3 linked regions of the Homo sapiens genome follow. The protein of the gene in region 3 binds, or shares a complex with, the protein of the main gene of each other region. Each region holds a gene or a part of one and is shown on either strand. Other genes may lie near its edges. A codon is read from its position in the direction of its gene.

The links.
Region 1: the proteins of XIAP (region 3) and CASP3 are in contact, whole or in part, in a crystal structure (PDB 1I3O), measured with the Homo sapiens proteins. Residues at the interface, in NP_001158.2 of Homo sapiens: Ala137, Leu140, Leu141, Gly144, Gln145, Val146, Val147, Asp148, Ile149, Ser150, Asp151, Thr152, Ile153, Tyr154, Asn226, Leu231, Gly232, Arg233, Asn234; in NP_001341706.1 of Homo sapiens: Tyr204, Trp206, Arg207, Asn208, Ser209, Lys210, Asp211, Trp214, Gln217, Lys242, Thr245, Glu246, Phe247, Glu248, Ser249, Phe250, Phe252, Thr255, Phe256.
Region 2: the proteins of XIAP (region 3) and TAB1 are in contact, whole or in part, in a crystal structure (PDB 2POP), measured with the Homo sapiens proteins. Residues at the interface, in NP_001158.2 of Homo sapiens: Phe33, Ala34, Ser38, Gly39, Pro41, Ser43, Ala44, Ser45, Thr46, Arg49, Tyr75, Ser78, Ala79, Val80, Gly81, Arg84, Phe92, Ile93, Gly95, Tyr97, Leu98; in NP_006107.1 of Homo sapiens: Glu99 (codon at 1,156), Ala100 (codon at 1,153), Arg103 (codon at 1,144), Thr201, Gln202, Leu203, Glu212, Asp213, Phe216, Arg217, Gln220, Arg241, Glu269, Glu271, Ile272, His273, Ala275, Gln276, Pro277.

Annotation. Positions count from the first base shown.
Region 1 is NC_000004.12:184,623,320-184,632,469, reverse strand, and holds the end of CASP3 (caspase-3 isoform a preproprotein), read left to right. Parts: intron 1-73; coding exon 74-202; intron 203-529; coding exon 530-705; intron 706-1,312; coding exon 1,313-1,433; intron 1,434-2,968; coding exon 2,969-3,198; 3' UTR 3,199-4,774; downstream 4,775-9,150. UniProt on the Homo sapiens protein: Thiol protease that acts as a major effector caspase involved in the execution phase of apoptosis. Following cleavage and activation by initiator caspases (CASP8, CASP9 and/or CASP10), mediates execution of apoptosis by catalyzing cleavage of many proteins.
Region 2 is NC_000022.11:39,409,558-39,416,779, reverse strand, and holds part of TAB1 (TGF-beta-activated kinase 1 and MAP3K7-binding protein 1), read right to left. Parts: intron 1,775-7,222; coding exon 1,638-1,774; intron 1,281-1,637; coding exon 1,127-1,280; intron 1-1,126. UniProt on the Homo sapiens protein: Key adapter protein that plays an essential role in JNK and NF-kappa-B activation and proinflammatory cytokines production in response to stimulation with TLRs and cytokines.
Region 3 is NC_000023.11:123,902,213-123,912,052, forward strand, and holds part of XIAP (E3 ubiquitin-protein ligase XIAP), read left to right. Parts: intron 1-4,775; coding exon 4,776-4,969; 3' UTR 4,970-9,840.

The sequences.
Region 1 (9,150 bases), on a different chromosome or scaffold from region 3:
AGTAGTTAATTTCATTTCAAAGTAGTTATTCTTTGTTTTCCATACAATTAAAAGTAATTCTTTCTGTTCCAAGGAATGACATCTCGGTCTGGTACAGATGTCGATGCAGCAAACCTCAGGGAAACATTCAGAAACTTGAAATATGAAGTCAGGAATAAAAATGATCTTACACGTGAAGAAATTGTGGAATTGATGCGTGATGGTAAGAAGAAACAATTAGAATGAACTTCATTGTACAATTAATTTTATACTATGGTCTAGCAATAATTATATGTATAATAAAATATGAGAATTGTGGAATTATACTGTACATAACCCTAATCTTACATACTTTAGTAAGAAGTTTAAAAAAAGTTATTTATGCCAACTTCCTAAAATGGTTTGAGATGTGTTGCCGTGCCCCAGGTTAGGTTAAGATGACCTCTTAGTTTTAGTCTCAGTTTCTTCATCATGTTCCCATACAGTATATCTGAAGTTGTTGAATAAAGTCATGGATTTTTTTTCCTTTTATTTGCAAATGTCTTTACAGTTTCTAAAGAAGATCACAGCAAAAGGAGCAGTTTTGTTTGTGTGCTTCTGAGCCATGGTGAAGAAGGAATAATTTTTGGAACAAATGGACCTGTTGACCTGAAAAAAATAACAAACTTTTTCAGAGGGGATCGTTGTAGAAGTCTAACTGGAAAACCCAAACTTTTCATTATTCAGGTAATGTCTAACTGAGTGATTTGGTTATTGACGATTAAGCAGGGGTTACTATTCTCAACTGTAAATTATCCAAAGGATAATTTTTTTCCTGAAGCTAATGAACTATTGTTACTTTTCATTTATTTACCACTTAAAAGATATAGAGTAAATTTTAATTTTATACTTATATCAAAAAGACTCAGCATAATTAACATCCTTTTTTTTTTTTTTTTTTTTTTTTTTAGACAGAGTCTTGCTCTGTCGCCCAGGCTGGAGTACAGTGGCGCGATCTCCGCTCACTGCAAGCTCTGCCTCCTGGGTTCACGCCATTCTCCTGCCTCAGCCTCCTGAGTAGCTGGGACTACAGGCGCCTGCCACCAGGCCCAGCTAATTTTTAAATTTTTTTTTAATAGAGACAGGGTTTCACCATGTTAGCCAGGATGGTCTCGATCTCCTGACCTCAAGTCATCCGCCCGCCTTGGCCTCCCAAATTGCTGGGATTAAAGGCGTGAGCCACCGCGCCCGGCCAATTAACATCCATTTTTACATAGCATTTCAATTTTTTAGAACTAAGTTATGTGTTCACACACAAATTTTTATAAATAAATATTTATTTTCTAACACCCAGGCCTGCCGTGGTACAGAACTGGACTGTGGCATTGAGACAGACAGTGGTGTTGATGATGACATGGCGTGTCATAAAATACCAGTGGAGGCCGACTTCTTGTATGCATACTCCACAGCACCTGGTGAGAACGTTACACATAATGAATGTTACATGTGGATTTTAAATGAATTAACTGTGACTGATCATAGAATTATACAATGAAAAGTGTGTTTCAGAGACTGTCAAGATTTTGATATCCCTAAAGATATCAAAACTTGTCTATATTTTAGGGAACCTTCATCAAAGAGAAGTCTCAAAAAGTTGTCTTTAGCCAAAAGTTTGGCTAGAAAATATGCATATATAGCCAGGCACAGTGACTCACGCCTGTAATCCTAGCGCTTTGGGAGGCCGAGGCAGGTGGATCACTTGAGGTCAGGAGTTCAAAACCAGCCTGGCCAACCTCATCTCTACTAAAAATACAGAAAAATTAGCTGGGCATGGTGGCACACGCCTGTAATCCCAGCTACTGGGGAGGCTGAGGCAGGAGAATCGCTTGAACCTGGGAAGCAAAGGTTGCAGTGAGCCAAGATCGCACCACTGCACTTCAGCCTGGGCGACAGAGTGAGACTCCGTCTCAAAGGAAAAAAAGAAAAGAAAATATGCATATGTAGAGTAGACTAGCACGATGTCATTCATTGGACTTTATCAGGTAGATCTCCGCTACTAATATCAGGTAGAATATTACGTGGCAACAGAGGCCAAGTCAGAGCTTCCCCTGCATCTTAGAGAAGAAGAGAGGTACGTTTCTCAGGAGTTATTTGAAAGGTAGTAAATAAAAAAGATAAACATGACTAGTATACAAGAGGATAGATGTGGAGTGGGAGAAAAGAAGGTAAAAAACGATACATGAATGTGCCGTTAACCTCCACGTTTTTACTGTTCTGCTGCACACGTCATCATCTAAATAAACATTTGTGGATTATACCACCATTTACTCACACAGCTAAGGGTGTCGGAGAGTTTGGAAACTTTAGGTAAATGTATTCTTAAGCAGTGTTGCATTTTAAAATATGCTCAATATGGTTTATCTTATCCTCTAGGCATCTTTCCAAGCAAAGTACCTCTAAGTTAAAAGCAATGGGTCTAATAGTTAACCTAGAAAAAAAAGTATGATAAATATACTATTTTCCCTTTTTGGACCAATACTTGGTAGTGTGTTTATTATACTTTATTCAGATGCTCTGTAGACAAGTAGGACACTCAAAGCAATTTGTTTCTTGGCTAAGTCAGTATTAAAATAAGGTGAAATCTGATTGGAACACTGTGCTACTTACAATGATCCTTTTTATACATCTTTACTTTTGCATCTTACCTTCTGCGTGTTTGCTCTTCTTGCCTATTGAAAGGGGAGTCCAGAAAGTAAAACTTTCAATAATTCAGTGTTCGTGAAGCTGGTCCCCGGCCAGCTTTGCTGAAAGCAGGGGGTGTACGCATAGCACACATTCGTCCTTCAGCATCATTTCTTCTGAAACCAAAGGTGTCTTTTTTTTTTTATTTGTATGACTAATAAGACTTATGTAAGTTTATGCTTATTTTTGCCTTTATGACTACATAATAATTTATAGAATCAACTAAAATCAGCTATCCATGGTATTTTGCTTGTATTTTGCCTTTTAGGTTATTATTCTTGGCGAAATTCAAAGGATGGCTCCTGGTTCATCCAGTCGCTTTGTGCCATGCTGAAACAGTATGCCGACAAGCTTGAATTTATGCACATTCTTACCCGGGTTAACCGAAAGGTGGCAACAGAATTTGAGTCCTTTTCCTTTGACGCTACTTTTCATGCAAAGAAACAGATTCCATGTATTGTTTCCATGCTCACAAAAGAACTCTATTTTTATCACTAAAGAAATGGTTGGTTGGTGGTTTTTTTTAGTTTGTATGCCAAGTGAGAAGATGGTATATTTGGTACTGTATTTCCCTCTCATTTTGACCTACTCTCATGCTGCAGAGGGTACTTTAAGACATACTCCTTCCATCAAATAGAACCACTATGAAGCTACCTCAAACTTCCAGTCAGGTAGTTGCAATTGAATTAAATTAGGAATAAATAAAAATGGATACTGGTGCAGTCATTATGAGAGGCAATGATTGTTAATTTACAGCTTTCATGATTAGCAAGTTACAGTGATGCTGTGCTATGAATTTTCAAGTAATTGTGAAAAAGTTAAACATTGAAGTAATGAATTTTTATGATATTCCCCCCACTTAAGACTGTGTATTCTAGTTTTGTCAAACTGTAGAAATGATGATGTGGAAGAACTTAGGCATCTGTGGGCATGGTCAAAGGCTCAAACCTTTATTTTAGAATTGATATACACGGATGACTTAACTGCATTTTTAGACCATTTATCTGGGATTATGGTTTTGTGATGTTTGTCCTGAACACTTTTGTTGTAAAAAAATAATAATAATGTTTAATATTGAGAAAGAAACTAATATTTTATGTGAGAGAAAGTGTGAGCAAACTAACTTGACTTTTAAGGCTAAAACTTAACATTCATAGAGGGGTGGAGTTTTAACTGTAAGGTGCTACAATGCCCCTGGATCTACCAGCATAAATATCTTCTGATTTGTCCCTATGCATATCAGTTGAGCTTCATATACCAGCAATATATCTGAAGAGCTATTATATAAAAACCCCAAACTGTTGATTATTAGCCAGGTAATGTGAATAAATTCTATAGGAACATATGAAAATACAACTTAAATAATAAACAGTGGAATATAAGGAAAGCAATAAATGAATGGGCTGAGCTGCCTGTAACTTGAGAGTAGATGGTTTGAGCCTGAGCAGAGACATGACTCAGCCTGTTCCATGAAGGCAGAGCCATGGACCACGCAGGAAGGGCCTACAGCCCATTTCTCCATACGCACTGGTATGTGTGGATGATGCTGCCAGGGCGCCATCGCCAAGTAAGAAAGTGAAGCAAATCAGAAACTTGTGAAGTGGAAATGTTCTAAAGGTGGTGAGGCAATAAAAATCATAGTACTCTTTGTAGCAAAATTCTTAAGTATGTTATTTTCTGTTGAAGTTTACAATCAAAGGAAAATAGTAATGTTTTATACTGTTTACTGAAAGAAAAAGACCTATGAGCACATAGGACTCTAGACGGCATCCAGCCGGAGGCCAGAGCTGAGCCCTCAGCCCGGGAGGCAGGCTCCAGGCCTCAGCAGGTGCGGAGCCGTCACTGCACCAAGTCTCACTGGCTGTCAGTATGACATTTCACGGGAGATTTCTTGTTGCTCAAAAAATGAGCTCGCATTTGTCAATGACAGTTTCTTTTTTCTTACTAGACCTGTAACTTTTGTAAATACACATAGCATGTAATGGTATCTTAAAGTGTGTTTCTATGTGACAATTTTGTACAAATTTGTTATTTTCCATTTTTATTTCAAAATATACATTCAAACTTAAAATTACCAATGTCTTTGAGTTTTTTGTTGCTGTTGTTTTTGATGTTGTGCCACTAATTGGAAGTTAAAATGTTTTTAATCAGAAGCTTGATTTGGAAGAGTCAAAGAGGAAGCACCAGAACCCTAGCCTAGTTTTTTGAGGTGGTGGCAGTTAGATCAGGGCAGACAGATCGCTTATGCTTCCCAAGTCCTCGCAGAAGTTCCTGACCCTGAAATGACCACAATGCCAGGAAGATACTTTGTTTGCATAGATCTCAGGCCTTAAATATGACCATATGTGTGAATTTGAAACTTTTTCCACAAGATAAGTGTCTAATGGGAAGAACAACCTAAGAGGATATACAACAAGCCGTTGATGTTTACTGATGGCCTCCTCTGGGCGCTGGGATTTTGACAGAGGAATTTGCTGTCTTTTTACTTCATATGCTTAGAAAAGGAATATAGGAAAGTGGGGTTGTGGGTGGTTTTAAATTTCTTCCAATATTTCTGTAATGAAAATATATTACTTTTAAATCAGAAACAAAATAAATTGTCCTAACTAGGAAAAGGAGACTTCTGTTTCTGAGGAGTAGAGAGTAGCATAAATGAGTTCTTTAAGGCCATATGAAAGCGGTGGTTCTATAGTGTTGAGGAAAATCTGGCTTATTCTAGTCTCCCTGTTAAGTAAAGAGGTTTCAGATACAAAGGAAAAGACCAGCAACCCAATAGGAAAATGAGCCAAGGACATGAACAAACAGTTCACAGAAAAAAGAAAACCCAAATGTCCCTTAAATTCAATAAACAGCTTGATCTGCATCATAATAAGAGAAATGCACATTAAAGTATCTGTCGTCTATCAGACCGGCAAAAACCCCAGTTTGGTGACATATTCTGTTGGCAAGATGTGGGAAATGTATACTCTCCCGTTGGTGGGAGTATGATACGGTAAAATACTCTGTGGAGGGGAATCTGACAATACCTATCAAATTATTCTTTGAAGTAGCAGTCCCATTTCTTGGAATCCAGCCTACCCATACACCTGTGTGTGTACAAAATTATATATGAGCTTTTCATCACAACGTTGTTTTGGTGTTAAAAAATGGCAGCAACTCAGCTGTGAAGTGTTCCGGGAAGTCAGGGACCCCGAACGGAGGGACCTGCTGAGGCTCTGACAGAGGAACATAAATTGTGAAGATTTCATGAACCTTTATCACTTCCCCAGTCAATACTCTTGTGGTTTCCTATGCCTGTTTTTGCTTTGATCTCTTGGTCCCGTCATCTTCGTAAGCTGAGGATGTCTGTCGCCTCAGGACCCTGTGATGATTGTGTTACCTGCACAAATTGTTCATAGGGCATGTGTGTTTGAACAGTGTGAAATCTGGGCACCTTAAGAATAGGATAATAGCGATTTTTCAGGGAACAAAGGAAATAGCCTTAAAGTCTGGCTGCCTGTGGGCCGGGCAGAACAGAGCCATATTTCTCTTATTACCAAAAATGGGTAAGAGAAATATCACTGAATTCTTTCTCCAGTAAGGAATATTAATAATTAACAGCCCTGGGAAAAGAATGCATTCTGGGGAGGGGAGGGGGCCTCTGAAATGGCCGCTCTGGGGGTGTCTGCCTTATGCAGTTGCAGATAAGGGATGAAACACACCCTGGCCTCCTGCAACGCCCCCAGGCTTGCTAGGATTAGGAAATTCCAGCCTGGCAAATTCTAGTCAGACCAGTTCTCTGCTCTTGAACCCTGTTAAGATGTTTATCAATGACAATGTGAGCACAGTGGGACATAGAAGTTCATTAGTGATTCCAGTTTTGCCCTGACCTTGTGATCTCACCCTGACCTTCTGCCTTGTGATCTTTCGTCACCCTTGAAGCATGTGATCTCTGTGACCCACACCTTATTTGTACACTCCCTCCCCTTTGAAAATTGCTAATAAAAACTTGCTGGTTTTACGGCTCAGGGGGCATCACGGAACCTGCCGACATGTGATGTCTCCCCCGGACACCCAGCTTTAAAATTTCTCTCTTGTACTCTTTCCCTTTATTTCTAGACCGGCCAACACTTAGAGAAATAGAAAAGAACCTATGTGAAATATCGGGGGCTGGTTTCCCCTGATAGTGAAGGAGACAGGTTAGATACACTGGAGCTTCCACACAGGAGAGAGGGAAGGAGCTGGAGAAGAAGGTGAGTTGGAAGATTTGGGGGTTTTGTTTTTAAGTGAGAGAGCTTTGAATAGGTTTAATGCTGATGGTGGGGATCCAGTTAAGAGAAACACTGAAAATTAACTAGAGGGAAAGGTAACTGACAGTATAGAGTTCCTAAGAACCCAAGCAGTAAATTCTAGCCTAGCTGGGGGTGGAGTGTGAAGAAGTGAAGAACCTTTTTTATTTTTTTTTTAATGGGCTGGGTGTGAAGCTACATTTGTAGTTTTGTGGCAGGAAGTTCCCTTACTGTAACTTCTATATTTTCTGTGAAGCAGAAGACAAGAACTCTGTTCAAAGTTAGGGAGATGATAGATTGAGGGCTAGAAGAGTAAGGCAGGCTTGAAACAATCATTGTCACGAATGGGAGTTGACCAGAGATTAGTAACGTTGCTGGGCCATGTGTAGGGGCCCATTTGAAACCAGCGATTACAAATGTGCAGTGGTTCCAGGCCGTGCGGCTGTGTGAATCTACCTGATGACCCTCGGCTGCTTGGGTACTGCCATGGATAGCGCATGTGTTGGCTTTGTCCAGCTTTGGGCTTTTTCCCACATTGATTTTAAAAAGACAGGAGCCACAGATTTTGGAGTACTGCAAAATGACTTTCCAAATTGATGAACCATGGACTCCAAGCTGGATAGACACAGAAATGAAAAGAAGGGACTAATAGGGAATAAGACGTGTGATCCATGGCCCGATGGCCCTGATGGACGTGAAGATCCACTGTTGTGGGAGGAGTGGAACACTAACACTGAATGATGGAGGCTGTGGTCAGAAACAGGTAAGTGATGGAGGCTGTGGTCAGAAACAGGTCAATGATGGAGGCTGTGGTCAGAAACAGGTCAATGATGGAGGCTGTGGTCAGAAACAGGTCAGTGATGGAGGCTGTGGTCAGAAACAGGTCAGTGATGGAGGCTGTGGTCAGAAACAGGTCAGTGATGGAGGCTGTGGACAGAAACAGGTCAGTGATGGAGGCTGTGGTCAGAAACAGGTCAGTGATGGAGGCTGTGGTCAGAAACAGGTCAGTGATGGAGGCCGTGGTCAGAAACAGGTTGAATTGGAGGGGCACACATTTGGTCATGAAAATGGTGGGACTAAGAAGAATGAAGTGGCATGCAAGAGACCATTATAGAAATGATGTGGAACTCAGGGTGAGGATGTTGGGTGTGTGCTCTTCTGTATGGACATTGACTTTATGCTAAAATGAGATTCACTATGTGGGAACAGTAATAAAATAATGTGGCTGGGCGTGGTGGCTCACACCTGTAATCCCAACACTTTGGGAGGCTGAGGCGGGCGGATAGCAAGGTCAGAGTTTGAGACCAGCCTGGCCAACATGGTGAAACACATCTGTACTAAAAATACAAAAATTAGCCGGGCATGGTGGTGGGCACCTGTAATCACAGCTACTGGAGAGGCTGAGGCAGGAGAATTGCTTGAATCCGGGAAGTAGAGGTTGCAGTGAGCCAAGACCATGCCTTTGCACTCCAGCCTGGGCGACAGAGCGAGACTCTGTCTCAAAAAAAAAGATAAGGTGACATAACTTAGTTGTGTTTACAAACTTTTGATTTTATGGATTTGAAAAAAATCCATCATTCATTTTTGCCAGATTTTTTAAAGCTATCACCCATTATTCATAACAAGAAAGACATTTTAACTCCCACCTCCTCATTTCCCTCTCAACCCCAAAATAAGTAGGGACATAATCCCAGATTAAAGGATAATACTTCCAAGGAAAGGCTTGTCACACATGCACACACACACATTCCTCAGGATCTAACATTTTGCAAGTTGAAACCGCATTCGGGAAGCAATACTCTAATCCACTAAAATAAAATTTCACTTAACACTTGAAATAAACTTGAACTCAAAAAATTTCTCTCCTTGGTGAGACTCAGGCAGTGAGAAGCAGCTGTGACTAGAAATGGCACTGATCTGTCCGTTAGAAACTTTTTAATAAAACATGCTTGTTGTGCCCTTTATTATGTCATCATTATCAGTAAGATGTCAGAACTTTCCATAGATTAAATAAATACTCCAATTTAAGTCATTTCTTTTCAGATTTGTCTGAATTTCAGTTGATCCAGAGCAAGAAAAAGTAAGTGTTCACATGTGAAAGTCTGTGGGTCCATTGCATAGACAATTAAGAAATAATAGATAACAGATTCAAGTCAAATGCAGTACGCATGTGGGTGTGTGG
Region 2 (7,222 bases), on a different chromosome or scaffold from region 3:
CAGGACAGGGCAAAGGCTGGTTCAAAACACCACTGTCACTGGTGCCAAAATGTCCTCTATTAATCAGAGCAGCAGCTTTGCTGTCTTCACTGCAGGTTCTTGTGTGATGGAGCTTTCCACATGTCAGTCCTGCCTCTGGCCCAGCACTGCAAGGCACCGGCTGCTTCCTGCAGATCAATGTCTTTGACAAAGCCCTTCAGCCTCGAAGGGGTGTGCACCCTGCAGAGGCAGCACTGCAGACGGCTGGGAGGCAGGAGACAGTGCGGAAGCTAAGAGCAAAGGCTTGGCGTAGGCCCAGCTGGTGTGACCTCTGGCCCCCTCAGTCTCACACAACGGAGGTTAAGTGTTGTTCCAGGGGTTAGGTAAGACAGTCCAACCTGGCACTCAGCAAGGCAACTGCTCAGAGAAACTGCCAGGCCTATGACAGCTCGTATGATTACTACAACTTCTTTCTGGGAGGCTTCTGTCAAACCCCACCAGCCCCAGGACACTGGTGACACTGACACCTTCTCCCCCTGTGTGAGATCTGCTGAGAATCACTGGCAATGGAGCCTGAGGTCGTGAAGGGCAGGAAAAGGCTGGCACCACCCCTCTCCGGGAACAGAAGCCCATCTTCTCATCTGAAATGGGCCTGAGACATGCTCCTGAAAGCAGATGCCAGGAGGAAAACTGCCAACAGCGCAAGCAGAAAGGTGGAACCAGTCAATGAGGGCGGCGGCCCCTCAGAAAGGGGAGGCAAGGTCCTTCCTGGACGCCCAGGGATGGCTCCTGCACCTGGAGGCTGAGCACCTGACCACATAGGAAAGAAAGGGGTAGCTCTAAATGACCCCATTTCTACCAGGCCTTGCCCTGCTCCCACCTCACACCTCTCTCCAAGCTCCCATCCCTAAATCCCCCCGTCTCCAGCAGTACCTCCTCTGCCAGCCATTGAAGGCCTGCTGCTCGCTGGCTGGTCCTGGACTCCTGTTGGGTGGGGGGGCCTACGCTGGGAGCTGCTCCTCTACTGGGGTGAAGGGGCCGGCAGGATCTTCACACCAACCCTGGCAACATGCTAGAGGTGCAGGGCCCAAGCCTTGGGGTGGGGGACATGATGTGGCTGGGTCACTGTTGGCCCCGGCACCATTACCTGCAGCAGCACACGCCGCACATCGGCCTCGGCGTGCTCGGCATTCAGCTGGCCCAGCAGGAGCTCTGCGGACAGCCGCTGGGCCACGAAGTTGGTCACTCGGTTGCCATCATAGCCGTTGAAGACCCCATACAGGAAGCAGTTGTTCTCACTCCTGGAAGAGGGAGAGGGCAGAGGGAGGCCTGAGACCAGGGTCTCACGGAGGTGGAGGGAGAAAGGGAAAGGAATTGGGGGAGACTAAAGCGACAGCAGCTGCAGCTTCAGGGGCCCTCCTGGGTCCCCCTGCTTTAGCCATCATTTCACTCTGGCTATGACATTCTGGGATACCCTCCTCCCCATGCTCACGCTACCCCATCAGAGCAGGCCCTTGGCAAGACAGCAGCAGAGGCCACCTCTCACGGGCCACATGTCACTGGCAAGCCCATACGAGAAAGCTGCAAGGTCGGTGTCTTTCCTTGCTTGCAAACCAACCAACTCCCCGGGCCCAACACAGAAATGCTGGCACACACACCTGAACTTGAGCCAGCTGTCCTCTGGCGGGTGGCTCTCAGTGCCCTTGCCATCAGCAGAGTAGCTGCGGTTGGAGGCTGAGCCAACCCCAGAGAGGTGGCAGAGAGGCAGGTCATCTGTCCAGCTTGGCTGCTGCTCCTGGGGAAGGACACCAGGAAGCCGTGAGACGCCACCGCGTCTGCAGGGTAGTCCCCACTTCACCTATTCCTTCTGCAACAAAAACCTAGCAGGCCCGCAGCCCTACACAGAGGGTTCCACTTCCTTCTGGAAAACAATAATGTTTGTATGAACAGACACCTGCAGAAGGGTTTGCTGTTTTTATGGCTAGTCTACAAACTTGTTTCCCAGGAAAACTGAGACTCCACCATTCCCAAATGTAAGGCGCAGCAATGACCTCCAGGAGTGAGCCGTTATGAAACCTAGTGAAACACACACAAATGTCGCAGACTCTTGGCAGGAAACTCTGGGGACCCCACCTCTTACTGCACTGGCTCCAAATGCACACTACAAAGAAATCCCTTGAGCATTGGTTACCAACACTGCAGGCTGCAGGCCCCACCCTCAGAATGACTGATCTGGGCAGGGCCCGGGACATCTGCAGTGCAGGCCGCTCCCCATGGGTGATGCTTTCAGGTGACCTAAGACCCAGCCTGGAGAAACTCCGACTTATAAGCTAGCCTCAGTCACTCTCTCTGGCACTGGGACCTCCAAGTACCAGGGAGAGTAACTGAGACTGGCTTTTAAGTCGGAGTTTATGAGCTAGTTTATAGGACATCCTCATGCCACCCCGATGTCCTCTCCCATCTCCCCTGCCACATCCTTCCCTCCCAGTCCCAAATGCCTACAGCCCTGTCCATCCCCTGCTCTTTGCCTCCACATGAACACCCTCCCTCTTCTTCCCTACCAATTCTCCGGGTCCTTCGGGACTCTTTGGCTCAGGAGTCACCACCTCCAGGAGGTCTTCCTTCAGGATGACCCTACCCAGGACTGGCTGATGGCCCTCTCATGTACCCCAACGGCACCCTGATTCCAGCATCCCTGCCTGTCTGCAATGCCCATTCTACCCCATAGGATCTCAAACCAGGCTGTTCAGCATAATCACTGCAGAGCTTTAAACACGCTCACACAGCGGTCCAGGCCCTGGCCCCATCCCCGGCCTAAACACAATTTCTGAATTTCCCAGATCTCCCTAGGGTACATCCTGAGCATCTGTACTTTTTAAGCCCCAGGAACAACTTTGATGCAAGGCCCAGGTGCAATTCCCTGCCTCTCCCTGAAAGCTTGCCCCAAATCTGGCCTCCCACCTGAAAACTGCGCTTTGTTCACAACGGCACTCCCAGAACCACCATGCAGAACTACAGCAAACTGGAATAACTGGGAGAACCACAGTTCAATTTCAAGGAAAATAAAATTTGTATTGGCTGGGTGCAGTGGCTCACGCCCGTAATCCCAGCACTTTGGGAAGCTGAGGTGGGTGGACCATTTGATGTCAGAAATTTGAGACCGGCCTAGCCAACCTGGTGAAACCCCATCTCTGTCTCTGTTAAAAACACAAAAAAATTAGCCAGGCATGGTGGTGCATGCCTGTAATCCCAGCTACTGGGGAGGCTGAGGCAGGAGAATCGCTTAAACCCAGGAGTCGGAGGTTGCAGCGAGCTGAGATCATGCCACTGCACTCTAGCCTGGGCGACAAGAGTGAGATTCTGTCTCAAAAAAAAAAAAATTGTATTGAAAGCTTTATTGAAATATTAAACAAACACAAGCTAGAGCAACCAGATAAGAGAAAGAAATAGAGGGCATCCAAACTGGCAAGGAAGATGTTAAATGATCCTTGTTTGCAGACGATATAATCTTATATTTGGAAAAACCTAGATTCCACCAAAAAACTATTAGAACTGATTAAACAAATTCAGTAAAGTGGCAGGATATGGGCCGGGCGCGGTGGCTCAAGCCTGTAATCCCAGCACTTTGGGAGGCTGAGGCAGGTGGATCATGAGGTCAGAAGATCGAGACCATCCTGGCTAACATGGTGAAACCCTATCTCTACTAAAAATACAAAAAACTAGCCGGGTGTGGTGGCGGGCGCCTGTAGTCCCAGCTACTCTGGAGGCTGAGGCAGGAGAATGGCATGAACCCGGGAGGCGGAGCTTGCAGTGAGCCGAGATCGTGCAACTGCACTCCAGCCTGGGTGACAGAGCGAGACTCCATCTCAAAAAAAGACTCCATCTCAAAAAAAAAAAAAAAAAAAAAAGTTGCAGGATATGGAATCAACATACAAAAATCAGTAGCATTTCTATATGCCAACAGTGAATCATCTGTAAAAGAAATAAAACACACACAGATACTGTGTGCAACTTCTTAAAAGTTATTGTTAAGTCTTCCAGAAAGGATGTGGAAACCACTTCAACAGGCTTTTGCAATCATATATATAAAAAGCCTGTGGTTAGCTTTTGTGGCAAATTGTAGCTTCTGTTTAGTTATATACTGACAGGAGTGACTTCACTTTTTTTCATATAATTGGTTTTATTCTGCTTTTATCTATTTTGGTGCTTCAGCTCTACATTTTGCACCCTGGAGCAACTTCTGCAGGGTGTGGGAGTTTGTTTTATTTTTACATTAACATGGAGTAAAACTGGCTTCTGGGGCACGCACATCTGTGAATGTTGACACATGTAGAGATGTGTGTAACTACCACCACTCTCAGGATACAGGGCAGCTCCACTCCCAACGCACTCCCTCCCCTAATCCCTGGCAACCTATTTTCCACTGCTATGGCTTTGTCTTTTTAAGAATGTCATATTAAACGCCAGGTGCAGTGGCTCACGCCTGTAATCCCAGCACTTTAGGAGGCCAAGAGGGGCTCATCACTTGAGGCCAGGAATTTGAGACCAGCCTGGCCAATGTGGCGAAACCCTGTCTCTACTGAAAATACAAAAATCAGCCGGGCGTGGTGGCGCACACCTGTAATTCCAGCTACTCAAGAGGCTGAGGCACGAGAATCACCTGAACCTGAGAGGCAGAGGTTGCCATGAGCCGAGATTGCACACCACTGCACTCCAGCCTGGGCGACGGAGTGAGACTCTGTCTCCAAACAAAACAAAACAAAACAAAACAATGTCACACAATGTCACATAAATGAAATGATGCAGTAAACATGACCTCCTGAGACTGGCTTCTTTCACTCAACATTATGTCTCTAAGACTCATCCAAGTTGTTAGCCTGTGTGCATCAACAGTCTCTCTCTCTCTTTCATAGAGTAATATACCATTGTTCGGATGTAGTAAAGTTTGTTTATCCATTCATCCACTGAAGGACATTTGGGCTGTTTCGTTTCTTATAACTATGAAGAAATATGCTATAAACATTCATGTACAGGTTTTTGTATGAATGTAACTTTTCATTTATCCAGGGTAAATACCTAGGAGTGACAGGGCTGGCTCATATGGTAAGTATATGTTTAACTTTATAAGAACCTGCCAAACTGTTTTCCAGAGCAGCTGAACCATTTGCATTTCCAATGTTGAGTTCCGGCTGCTCCACGTCCTTGCCACCATGTGGTATTGTCTTTTTCTGAATTTAGATATTCTAAGAGGTGGGTAGTGGTAGCTCATCGTGACTTTAATCTGCACTTCCTAACGGCTAACGACACTGAGTATCTTTCACGTGTTTATTTGGCACCAACTCATCCTCTTTGGTGAAGTGCAAGTTTTTTGCCTATTTTTAAATTAGGTTATTTTCTTAACTATTGTGTTCTGAGAGTTCTTTTTATTTGTAACTTAGCATTTCACTCAGTAGTGTCTTTTGCAGAGCAAAGGTTTTAGTTTAGATGAAGTCCATTTAATCCATTTTTTCTCTTTCATGGTTCATGCTTTTGGAGTCATGTTTAAGAACTCTCTGTCCAGTCCCAAGTTACAAAGAGCACCTATGTTTTTTTCTAAAAGTTTTATAGTTTTATATTTTACATTTAGATCTGTGATCCATTTTGAATTAATTTCTGTGTAAGGTAGGAAGGAGGTTTAGGTCCATTTTTTTTTTCATTCCAATATCCAATCATTCCAACACCATTTGTTGAAAAGACTAGCTTTTCTCCATTGAATTGTGTGGGTCTACTTCTAGACTCTATTCTGTTCCTGTGATCGATGTGTCTACCCCTCCACCAATACTACATTCTTGATTACTGTAGCTTTATAGTAAGTCTTTAAATTGGCTAGTGTGAGTCTCCTTATCTTCTTGCTCTTTTTCAAAATTGTTTTGGCTATTTGAGTTCCTTTGCCTTTTCATATAAATTTTAGAATCAGCTTACTTATATCCACAAGTCTTGTTGGGATTTTTATTGGAACTGCTTTAAATCTACAGATCAATTTGGGGAAAGTAGACATTGTCACTATGTTGAGTCTTCTAATCCATTAACATGGTGTGTCTCTACACTTATTTATGTCTTCACTGGGTGACTTTTATTTATTTATTTTTATTAACACAATTTTACTACAAGGTCTGAAAAGCTACTAACGCCTTCTAATAGCCTTTGAAAATAGACAGTATAACCAAACCCTACTAATGGAAATGAAAAAAAAAAGGAAGATGAAATGGCAGTAAGTGCTAGCTGAGCCAAGTATGTCACAACTAAATTAAAAAAAAAAAAAAGTAGAAATGGCAACAATTCTGCTCAGCTCCTCATGACACCAGGCTTAAATTTAACACTTTCAGTACAAGCAACGCCAAAAGAAAAACTGCTGACCTGGCACAGTGGCTCACGCCTGTAATCCCAGCACTTGGGGAGGCTGAGGCAGGTGGATCACTTGAGGTCAGGAGTTTGAGACTAGCCTGGGCAATGTGGCAAAATCCTGTCTCTACTAAAAATACAAAAATTAGCCAGGCGTGGTGGTGCGCACCTGTAATTCCAACTACTCAGGAGGCTGAGGCAGGAGAATCACTTGAATGCAGGAGGTGGAGGTTGCAGTGAGCTGAGATCACACCACTGCACTCCAGCCTGGATGACAGAGTGAGACTCAGTCTCAAAAAGAAGAAGAAAAACGGCTTCACAGTAACACAAAATTGGGTCTAGTTCTAATCTTGAACTGTTTCATTTTAAAGCAAAATTAATGCCTCTCTTAACATAAATGGGAACTTAGGTCTTCCGGACCCACATATGATATTATGTGATTACAGTACATTAAATCACTACATACATTCTTTCAATAAATATCTGCTGAGCATTTGCAACAGTCTGGCAGTATTCTGGGTACTGCGGACACAGAAGAGAAAACAGAGAGGCTCCTTATTTGAAGCCTCCCTTCTAGGGAGAGAGAGAATTCAAACACACAATACAATAATAAGGCAATCTCAGACAGCGCTACGTGCTAGGAAGAAAACACACCATGGTAATGGGACACAGCGTGATGGGCGGTGGGGGCCTCTAGATGAAGTGGTCAGAAAAGCAGACCTCTCTGGGGAGGTGACGTCTGAGCCAGACCTGAATGACTATGGGGCAGTGACCTTCTAGAAGGCAGAGAAGGAGGCTTCCAGGCAGAGGGAGCGGAACGTAAAAAGACCCTAAGATGGAAAAAAGCATGTCAGGTTTACGG
Region 3 (9,840 bases):
CATTAGGGAGAGTGTCTTTTCTCTATCTAACAGGAGTCAATGGGCGCTCATATTATCACTGAGACTACAAACTAGGATGGTGTGGGAAGGAGAGCCTAAGGGTTGGAATTCATTTGAACTCTCCTCAGTCTCACTAAATTGAGAGGCAAGTAATTGATACAGGCTCTCTACTCATGCTGGGACTGCTGCCTATTTGTCTTCCCAAAAGCTGATGAGGAAAGACTGGCACTAAGAATCTTTTAATTTTATATAAAATAAGGATGGGGCTAACTGAAGTGAAGCAGGTGAGGGTTATTAGAGAAAATATAACATTGTCACTTACTGAGAAATCCTAGATTTAGTGCTAAACTTTTTTGCCAATGGCTGTGTAACAGAGAATGCCCTAGTAAAAGGTCTTGTAAAAATAGTACCGAATCAGTATCTTTTTTTCTTTCTTTGAAAAAATTATGTAGTGTAAGATAAAGCCCTTTATTTAGTATATGTACTAAAGTACTTATTTTAATCTTTATGTGTATATATATTACTGTATATAATATAAAAATCAAATAACCCATATTCATTTCTTATCTGTCTTTCCATATGAATCTGCTCTAATAGTAAAATGAATAACATCAGTTTATTCTAGAAGAGGTTTTAAATAATTACAAATATTAGCAAATAACATCAAAAGTTATCTAGCCTTTATTGCTCATGTGCCAGTAACCTTCTGACCTAGAAGAGGGCTTTGTGGGGAGGAGAAGGGGAAAGGCGCTGTAGAGAAGTATGTAGAATCCAGTAGTTACCTTTAAGCCAAGAGGGAAGTAATTGCCAGTGGTAAACTACTGGTCTGAGGGGAAAAGATCTATGCCCAGAATATCACCATCTCAAGTTAGTGGCTTTATACAAGGATGAAATAATATAGAAAAAAATGAGATGATATGGTATCACAAACAATCAGAACCAAAGGAACCTTAAAGATTATTTTATAATTTTTTTTTTTTTTTTTTTTTTTTGGAGACGGAGTTTCACTTTTGTTGCCCAGGCTGGAATGCAATGGTGCAATCTTGGCTCACTGCAACCTCCACCTCCCGGGTTCAAGCAATTCTCCTGCCTCAGCCTCCTGAGTAGCTGGGATTATAGGCATGTGCCACCACACCCTGTTAATTTTGTATTTTTAGTAGAGACGGGGTTTCTCCATGTTGGTCAGGCCGGTCTCCAACTTCCAACCTCAGGTGATCTGCCCGCCTCGGCCTCATAAAGTGCTGGGATTACAGGCATGAACCACTGCACCCAGCCCATTTTATAACTTTTATGACCTTAATTGGGAACCTGAAGTACAGATGGGCTGTTGCCTAGGATCACGCCGATAGTTGGGAATAGAATTCAGATTTCCTGACTTCTGGTCCAGTGTTTTGGGGTTTGTTTCAGTTTTTTTTTTTGTTTTGTTTTTTGTTTTTTTTAGATTTTAAAAAATTGTGATAAAATACACATACAGTTTACCATCTTAACCATTTTTAGTGTATGGTTCCGTAGTGTTAAGTACATTTACATTGTTGCACAGTCAACCTCCAGAACTCTTCATCTTGCAAAACCGAAACTCTACATCCATTAAACAGCCAGGCGTGGTGGCACACGCCTGTAGTTCCAGCTGCTTGGGAGGCTGAGGCAGGAGGATTGCTTGAGACCAGGAGCTCAAGGCTGCAATGAGCTGTGATTGCACCACTGCTCTCCAGCCTGGGATACAGAGCAAGACCCTATCTTTAAAAAATAATAATAATAATAAAAACATGTTCATTAAACAACTCCCCATTCCCTCTCTTCCCAACCCCTGGCAACTACCATTTTACTTTTTGTCTCTATAAATTTGACTACTCTAGGTGTCAGTATTGTTGTTGCTTTGTTTGTTTGTTTGTTTCTTCCTTTTTGTGGAGAACGGGGTCTCACTATATTGCTCAGGCAGGTCTCGAACTCCTGGGCTCAAGCTATCCTCCCGCCTCTGCCTCCCTGAGAGCTGGGATTATAGGCGTGAGCCACCGCGCCCAGCCTGTTTGTTTGTTTTTAACTCGTTGTAGCATTACATCTAAAAGTAATGTGGAAATTACTTGTTCTCCTTTTGATTTTTTTGGCATGAAATACACACTTCATTCTGACTTTTTTTGGTGTTGATGCTTTCTTATAATATAAATCAGCTTATAGTGCCGTTTCTTTACTTGTATTTTTTCCTCTGCCTTGAGTACGTTTTCTCTATCTGTATACCTAGTCCCATTCCCCACTCTACCCCCAACTCCCTGAATCTACTTTGTGAACTCATGTTTCAAGGTTCAGCTCAGAAGTCACTTCTTTCAAGTTTTCTCCCGCACCCACAGCAGAGTTAGGAGCTCCTTCTTATCTACTCCTGGTGCTGGTAGAGTTTTGTTTTGTTTTATTTTGTTTTGTTTTGTTTTTCTTGAGACAGGGTCTCGCTCTGTCGCCCAGGCTGGAGTGCAGTGGCACACAATCTCAGCTCACTGCAACCTCTATCTCTCAGGTTCAAGCGATTCTGCTGCCTCAGCCTCCCGAGTAGCTGGGATTACAGGCATGCGCCACCACACCCAGCTAATTTTTTTTGTGTGTATTTTTAGTAGAGATGGGGTTTCACCATGTTGGCCAGGCTAGTCTTGAACTCCTGACCTCAAATGATCTGCCCGCCTCAGCCTCCCAAAGTGCTGGGATTACAGGCGTGAGCCACCAGGCCTGGCTGAGCATTTTGCTTTTTACACTATTTTGGGACTGGTTTCTGCCCTGCCCATTAGACCAAGCTTCTTAAGGGTAAGTGCTTTATCTTCTTATCTCTGATGCATTCCATGTTTGAGCCTATAGTTTTTATTATGCCCAAGAGGGTACTTTTTAAGAAGAAAGAGATTAAACAATCCTTTCCTCTACCCCCTAGCCAGAGAAACCTTTCTGAGACATAGATGTGATCATATCTGTCTCTAGTTTAAAACCCTTCACTGCCTCCCAGGACCCTTGGGATCAAGTCCAAACTCCTTTACGTGGCTCGCCTAATCTTTCATGATCAGGCACCCTTTTGTAGCCTCATCTCATGCTATTTTCTCAAATTCTGTGCCCAAGCTTTGCCTGTGCACTTGTAGGCCACGTTCTGTCTCTCTCCTTGGAGCTTGTTTATGCTGTTTCCTTTGCCTAAAACACTTTTCTCCCATTGCCCTTATCCCCCAAGGCCTCCTTCTCCTAGTAAACTCCTAATTCATTCTTTTGTACCCAGTTTTAGGTATAATTTCCTCCAGGAGGCCTTCGTTTATGCATGCATGCACACACACGCACACACACCCTTCCTGTGCTCTTCATAACACATTGTAATTACCTTTGTCATCATACCATTTATACTTTCCTGTTTGCTTGTGTTCTTTACTTGTCTATGAACTATTGGGGGCCTGAGGTTTATGTATTTGTTAATTGTATCCCTAGTACCTAGAACCTAGTTAAGTGTCCAGTAAGTATTTCTTGAATAAACTATTGTTTTCCAAACATGTTTTCAGAATAGTGTTCAGCAGGATGTTAAAAGGATGCCATGAAAAAGGAACCCCATAGTTAAATAGGGAAATGCCTTGTACATTTCTAAGAGGGAACATAGACTATACTGTCCTATATTGTACTGTACTGCCCTGTCCTGGATGACAGTGGTTCTCAAACGCCAGTGTGCCCAACCCCAGAAATTTTAGATTCTGTGAATGGAGCCCAGAAATCCGTGGTTTAAAAATGCCCCAGGTTATTCTCATGTGAGGCCATATTTGGAAACCACTGGTACATAATGATTATAAAGATGCTAAAATAAATAAATAGTTGTGATCACAAAGGTATAGTTAAAATATGTAATGCATTTGGAATAGTGCCTAGCACGTACTATTTATGCAATATTACTGGTAACTGCTGCTGCTGTTGTCATTATTGTTATATGTGACCATGAAACACATGTTTTGTGGCATATTTATTCACATTTCACAAAACTATTTTGGGAAAGGCTGAATTAAGCAAGTACTTCAGTGCCACCTATATGCTGATGACATCCAGATCTCTATCTCTAGCCCTGACTTCTCCTGACCTCAAGATTTGACTCTTCAGTTGCCTACTGGTTATTTTTATATGGGTGTCCTGAAAACACCTCAAAAATATCTGAAGATCCCAAACCTGTACCTCCTTTTATATTTCTTATTGGCATCACCATATCCTTGTCAGCCAAGCTAGCAATCTTGTAATCAACTTTAGTTTGTCTTTCTTCTTCAGCCCTCATATCCAGTCAGTCACCCAATCCTACTTGTCCCACTTCAGAAGTGTCCCTCAAATCCATCCCTCTATTTCTGGAATTAGTCGTGACCTTTCCATATGCTGCTCCTTTTACCTAACCCTTGTTTTTCTGCCTGGCAAATGACTGTCCATGCTTAAATGTCACTCCTCCACTTCCCTCCTCCCCCGATCCAGCCACTGCCAACCTGTGAAGCCTTCTCCAACTAGCCTGAGCAGAAGAACTTGTTTTCTCATCTTGTCCCAGAGCACTTTGTACATAACTTTATTATAGCACTTATCACTTTGTACTTTGTGCTTAACCTCCTAGCCTCATCTTACATCCTCTCCCACTAGCGTGTGAGCTATTTAAGAGCAGATGCCACGGGTGAGTCATCCTCATATCTCCCGGCACTTGTTGGGTGCTTGGCACGTAGTAGGGGCTCAATAAATGTTTTCAATGAATTTAAACAACTAAGAGAGTCTAAAACTAGCATAATTATTTTCTCTTTTTGCAGAGATTAGTACTGAAGAGCAGCTAAGGCGCCTGCAAGAGGAGAAGCTTTGCAAAATCTGTATGGATAGAAATATTGCTATCGTTTTTGTTCCTTGTGGACATCTAGTCACTTGTAAACAATGTGCTGAAGCAGTTGACAAGTGTCCCATGTGCTACACAGTCATTACTTTCAAGCAAAAAATTTTTATGTCTTAATCTAACTCTATAGTAGGCATGTTATGTTGTTCTTATTACCCTGATTGAATGTGTGATGTGAACTGACTTTAAGTAATCAGGATTGAATTCCATTAGCATTTGCTACCAAGTAGGAAAAAAAATGTACATGGCAGTGTTTTAGTTGGCAATATAATCTTTGAATTTCTTGATTTTTCAGGGTATTAGCTGTATTATCCATTTTTTTTACTGTTATTTAATTGAAACCATAGACTAAGAATAAGAAGCATCATACTATAACTGAACACAATGTGTATTCATAGTATACTGATTTAATTTCTAAGTGTAAGTGAATTAATCATCTGGATTTTTTATTCTTTTCAGATAGGCTTAACAAATGGAGCTTTCTGTATATAAATGTGGAGATTAGAGTTAATCTCCCCAATCACATAATTTGTTTTGTGTGAAAAAGGAATAAATTGTTCCATGCTGGTGGAAAGATAGAGATTGTTTTTAGAGGTTGGTTGTTGTGTTTTAGGATTCTGTCCATTTTCTTTTAAAGTTATAAACACGTACTTGTGCGAATTATTTTTTTAAAGTGATTTGCCATTTTTGAAAGCGTATTTAATGATAGAATACTATCGAGCCAACATGTACTGACATGGAAAGATGTCAAAGATATGTTAAGTGTAAAATGCAAGTGGCAAAACACTATGTATAGTCTGAGCCAGATCAAAGTATGTATGTTTTTAATATGCATAGAACAAAAGATTTGGAAAGATATACACCAAACTGTTAAATGTGGTTTCTCTTCGGGGAGGGGGGGATTGGGGGAGGGGCCCCAGAGGGGTTTTATAGGGGCCTTTTCACTTTCTACTTTTTTCATTTTGTTCTGTTCGAATTTTTTATAAGTATGTATTACTTTTGTAATCAGAATTTTTAGAAAGTATTTTGCTGATTTAAAGGCTTAGGCATGTTCAAACGCCTGCAAAACTACTTATCACTCAGCTTTAGTTTTTCTAATCCAAGAAGGCAGGGCAGTTAACCTTTTTGGTGCCAATGTGAAATGTAAATGATTTTATGTTTTTCCTGCTTTGTGGATGAAAAATATTTCTGAGTGGTAGTTTTTTGACAGGTAGACCATGTCTTATCTTGTTTCAAAATAAGTATTTCTGATTTTGTAAAATGAAATATAAAATATGTCTCAGATCTTCCAATTAATTAGTAAGGATTCATCCTTAATCCTTGCTAGTTTAAGCCTGCCTAAGTCACTTTACTAAAAGATCTTTGTTAACTCAGTATTTTAAACATCTGTCAGCTTATGTAGGTAAAAGTAGAAGCATGTTTGTACACTGCTTGTAGTTATAGTGACAGCTTTCCATGTTGAGATTCTCATATCATCTTGTATCTTAAAGTTTCATGTGAGTTTTTACCGTTAGGATGATTAAGATGTATATAGGACAAAATGTTAAGTCTTTCCTCTACCTACATTTGTTTTCTTGGCTAGTAATAGTAGTAGATACTTCTGAAATAAATGTTCTCTCAAGATCCTTAAAACCTCTTGGAAATTATAAAAATATTGGCAAGAAAAGAAGAATAGTTGTTTAAATATTTTTTAAAAAACACTTGAATAAGAATCAGTAGGGTATAAACTAGAAGTTTAAAAATGCTTCATAGAACGTCCAGGGTTTACATTACAAGATTCTCACAACAAACCTATTGTAGAGGTGAGTAAGGCATGTTACTACAGAGGAAAGTTTGAGAGTAAAACTGTAAAAAATTATATTTTTGTTGTACTTTCTAAGAGAAAGAGTATTGTTATGTTCTCCTAACTTCTGTTGATTACTACTTTAAGTGATATTCATTTAAAACATTGCAAATTTATTTTATTTATTTAATTTTCTTTTTGAGATGGAGTCTTGCTTGTCACCCAGGCTGGAGTGCAGTGGAGTGATCTCTGCTCACTGCAACCTCCGCCTTCTGGGTTCAAGCGATTCTCGTGCCTCAGCTTCCTGAGTAGCTGGAATTACAGGCAGGTGCCACCATGCCCGACTAATTTTTTTTTATTTTTAGTAGAGACGGGGTTTCACCATGTTGGCCAGGCTGGTATCAAACTCCTGACCTCAAGAGATCCACTCGCCTTGCCCTCCCAAAGTGCTGGGATTACAGGCTTGAGCCACCACGCCCGGCTAAAACATTGCAAATTTAAATGAGAGTTTTAAAAATTAAATAATGACTGCCCTGTTTCTGTTTTAGTATGTAAATCCTCAGTTCTTCACCTTTGCACTGTCTGCCACTTAGTTTGGTTATATAGTCATTAACTTGAATTTGGTCTGTATAGTCTAGACTTTAAATTTAAAGTTTTCTACAAGGGGAGAAAAGTGTTAAAATTTTTAAAATATGTTTTCCAGGACACTTCACTTCCAAGTCAGGTAGGTAGTTCAATCTAGTTGTTAGCCAAGGACTCAAGGACTGAATTGTTTTAACATAAGGCTTTTCCTGTTCTGGGAGCCGCACTTCATTAAAATTCTTCTAAAACTTGTATGTTTAGAGTTAAGCAAGACTTTTTTTCTTCCTCTCCATGAGTTGTGAAATTTAATGCACAACGCTGATGTGGCTAACAAGTTTATTTTAAGAATTGTTTAGAAATGCTGTTGCTTCAGGTTCTTAAAATCACTCAGCACTCCAACTTCTAATCAAATTTTTGGAGACTTAACAGCATTTGTCTGTGTTTGAACTATAAAAAGCACCGGATCTTTTCCATCTAATTCCGCAAAAATTGATCATTTGCAAAGTCAAAACTATAGCCATATCCAAATCTTTTCCCCCTCCCAAGAGTTCTCAGTGTCTACATGTAGACTATTCCTTTTCTGTATAAAGTTCACTCTAGGATTTCAAGTCACCACTTATTTTACATTTTAGTCATGCAAAGATTCAAGTAGTTTTGCAATAAGTACTTATCTTTATTTGTAATAATTTAGTCTGCTGATCAAAAGCATTGTCTTAATTTTTGAGAACTGGTTTTAGCATTTACAAACTAAATTCCAGTTAATTAATTAATAGCTTTATATTGCCTTTCCTGCTACATTTGGTTTTTTCCCCTGTCCCTTTGATTACGGGCTAAGGTAGGGTAGAGTGGGTGTAGTGAGTGTATATAATGTGATTTGGCCCTGTGTATTATGATATTTTGTTATTTTTGTTGTTATATTATTTACATTTCAGTAGTTGTTTTTTGTGTTTCCATTTTAGTGGATAAAATTTGTATTTTGAACTATGAATGGAGACTACCGCCCCAGCATTAGTTTCACATGATATACCCTTTAAACCCGAATCATTGTTTTATTTCCTGATTACACAGGTGTTGAATGGGGAAAGGGGCTAGTATATCAGTAGGATATACTATGGGATGTATATATATCATTGCTGTTAGAGAAATGAAATAAAATGGGGCTGGGCTCAGTGGCTCACGCCTGTAATCCCAGCACTTTGGGAGGCTGAGGCAGGTGGATCACGAGGTCAGGAGATCGAGACCATCCTGGCTAACACGGTGAAACCCCGTCTCTACTAAAAAACAGAAAATTAGCCGGGCGTGGTGGCGGGCGCCTGTAGTCCCAGCTACTCGGGAGGCTGAGGCAGGAGAATGGTGTGAACCCGGGAGGCAGAGCTTGCAGTGAGCCGAGATCTCGCCACTGCACTCCAGCCTGGGCAACAGAGCAAGACTCTGTCTCAAAAAAAAAAAAAAAAGAAATAAGAAAATGGGAAGCAATATTTGACATAGTTCTTTTTAGTCAAATCTACTTGTTAAAAAAAGGGTAGCAGTTTATTCATCTGTGAAAGGAAAATAATACTTATCTTACAAGGTTGCAAGAGCTCAAGGAGACCATGTATGTAAAGTTCCTGCTGTAAATATGAACTCCCATCCTAATACCCTTTTACCTCTCTGTGGGTTTGTCTTGACCTGGAAATTTGGGCTAAAACTTAGAAAAAATTCTTACATGATAACTCAGTGATGCTTACTCATAGTTTTTGGTGTTTCTCATAGATAAGATATAAATCAGCTGGGCGCGGTGGCTCATGCCTGTAATCCCAGCACTTTGGGAGGCCGAGGCGGGCAGATCACCTGAGGTCGGGAGGTCGAGACCAGCCTGACCAACATGGAGAAACCCCGTCTCTACTAAAAATACAAAATTAGCTGGGCGTGGTGGCTCATGCCTGTAATCCCAGCTACTTGGGAGGCTGAGGCAGGAGAATCGCTTGAACCCAGGAGGCGGAGGTTGTGGTGAGCGAAGATCGTGCCATTGCACTCCAGCCTGGGCAACAAGAGCAAAACTCTGTCTCAAAAAAAAAAAAAGATATAAATCACAATAAATAAATAGGTCAATACAAATGTTAGCCAGGCGTGGTGGCACATGCCCATAGTCGCAGCTACTCTGGAGGCAGAGGCAGGAGGATCACTTGAGCCCATGAATTTGAGGCAGCAGTGAGCTATGATTGTGCCACTGTACTCCAGTCTGGGTGACAGAGTGAGACCCCATCTCTAAATAAATAGGTCAAACCCTTAAAAATATTTAAATTCTTAAAAAATTGAAAAGATTATTCTTCTCAAATTTAGTTGAGCTTTCTAAGAGAAGCAATTGGCTTTTTCCCACTTCAATAATCATTTTCAGTTTGACTCATACAGTTAACACAATGTGAATTTCTTCCTCAGCATAACAGAGTTATAGAATGACAGGGCTGGAAGTGACCTTAGAGAGTATCCAGTTCTTTCATTTTACAGGTGAGGCAACTGAGACTCAAAGGTGATGTAATTTGTGCAAAGATTATAGCTAATTAGTAGCAGAGCCCTGACTGGGACATAGTTTGAAGGTGAAAAACTTCACCAAGCTACCTTTCTTGAAAGGTCCAAATGTTTA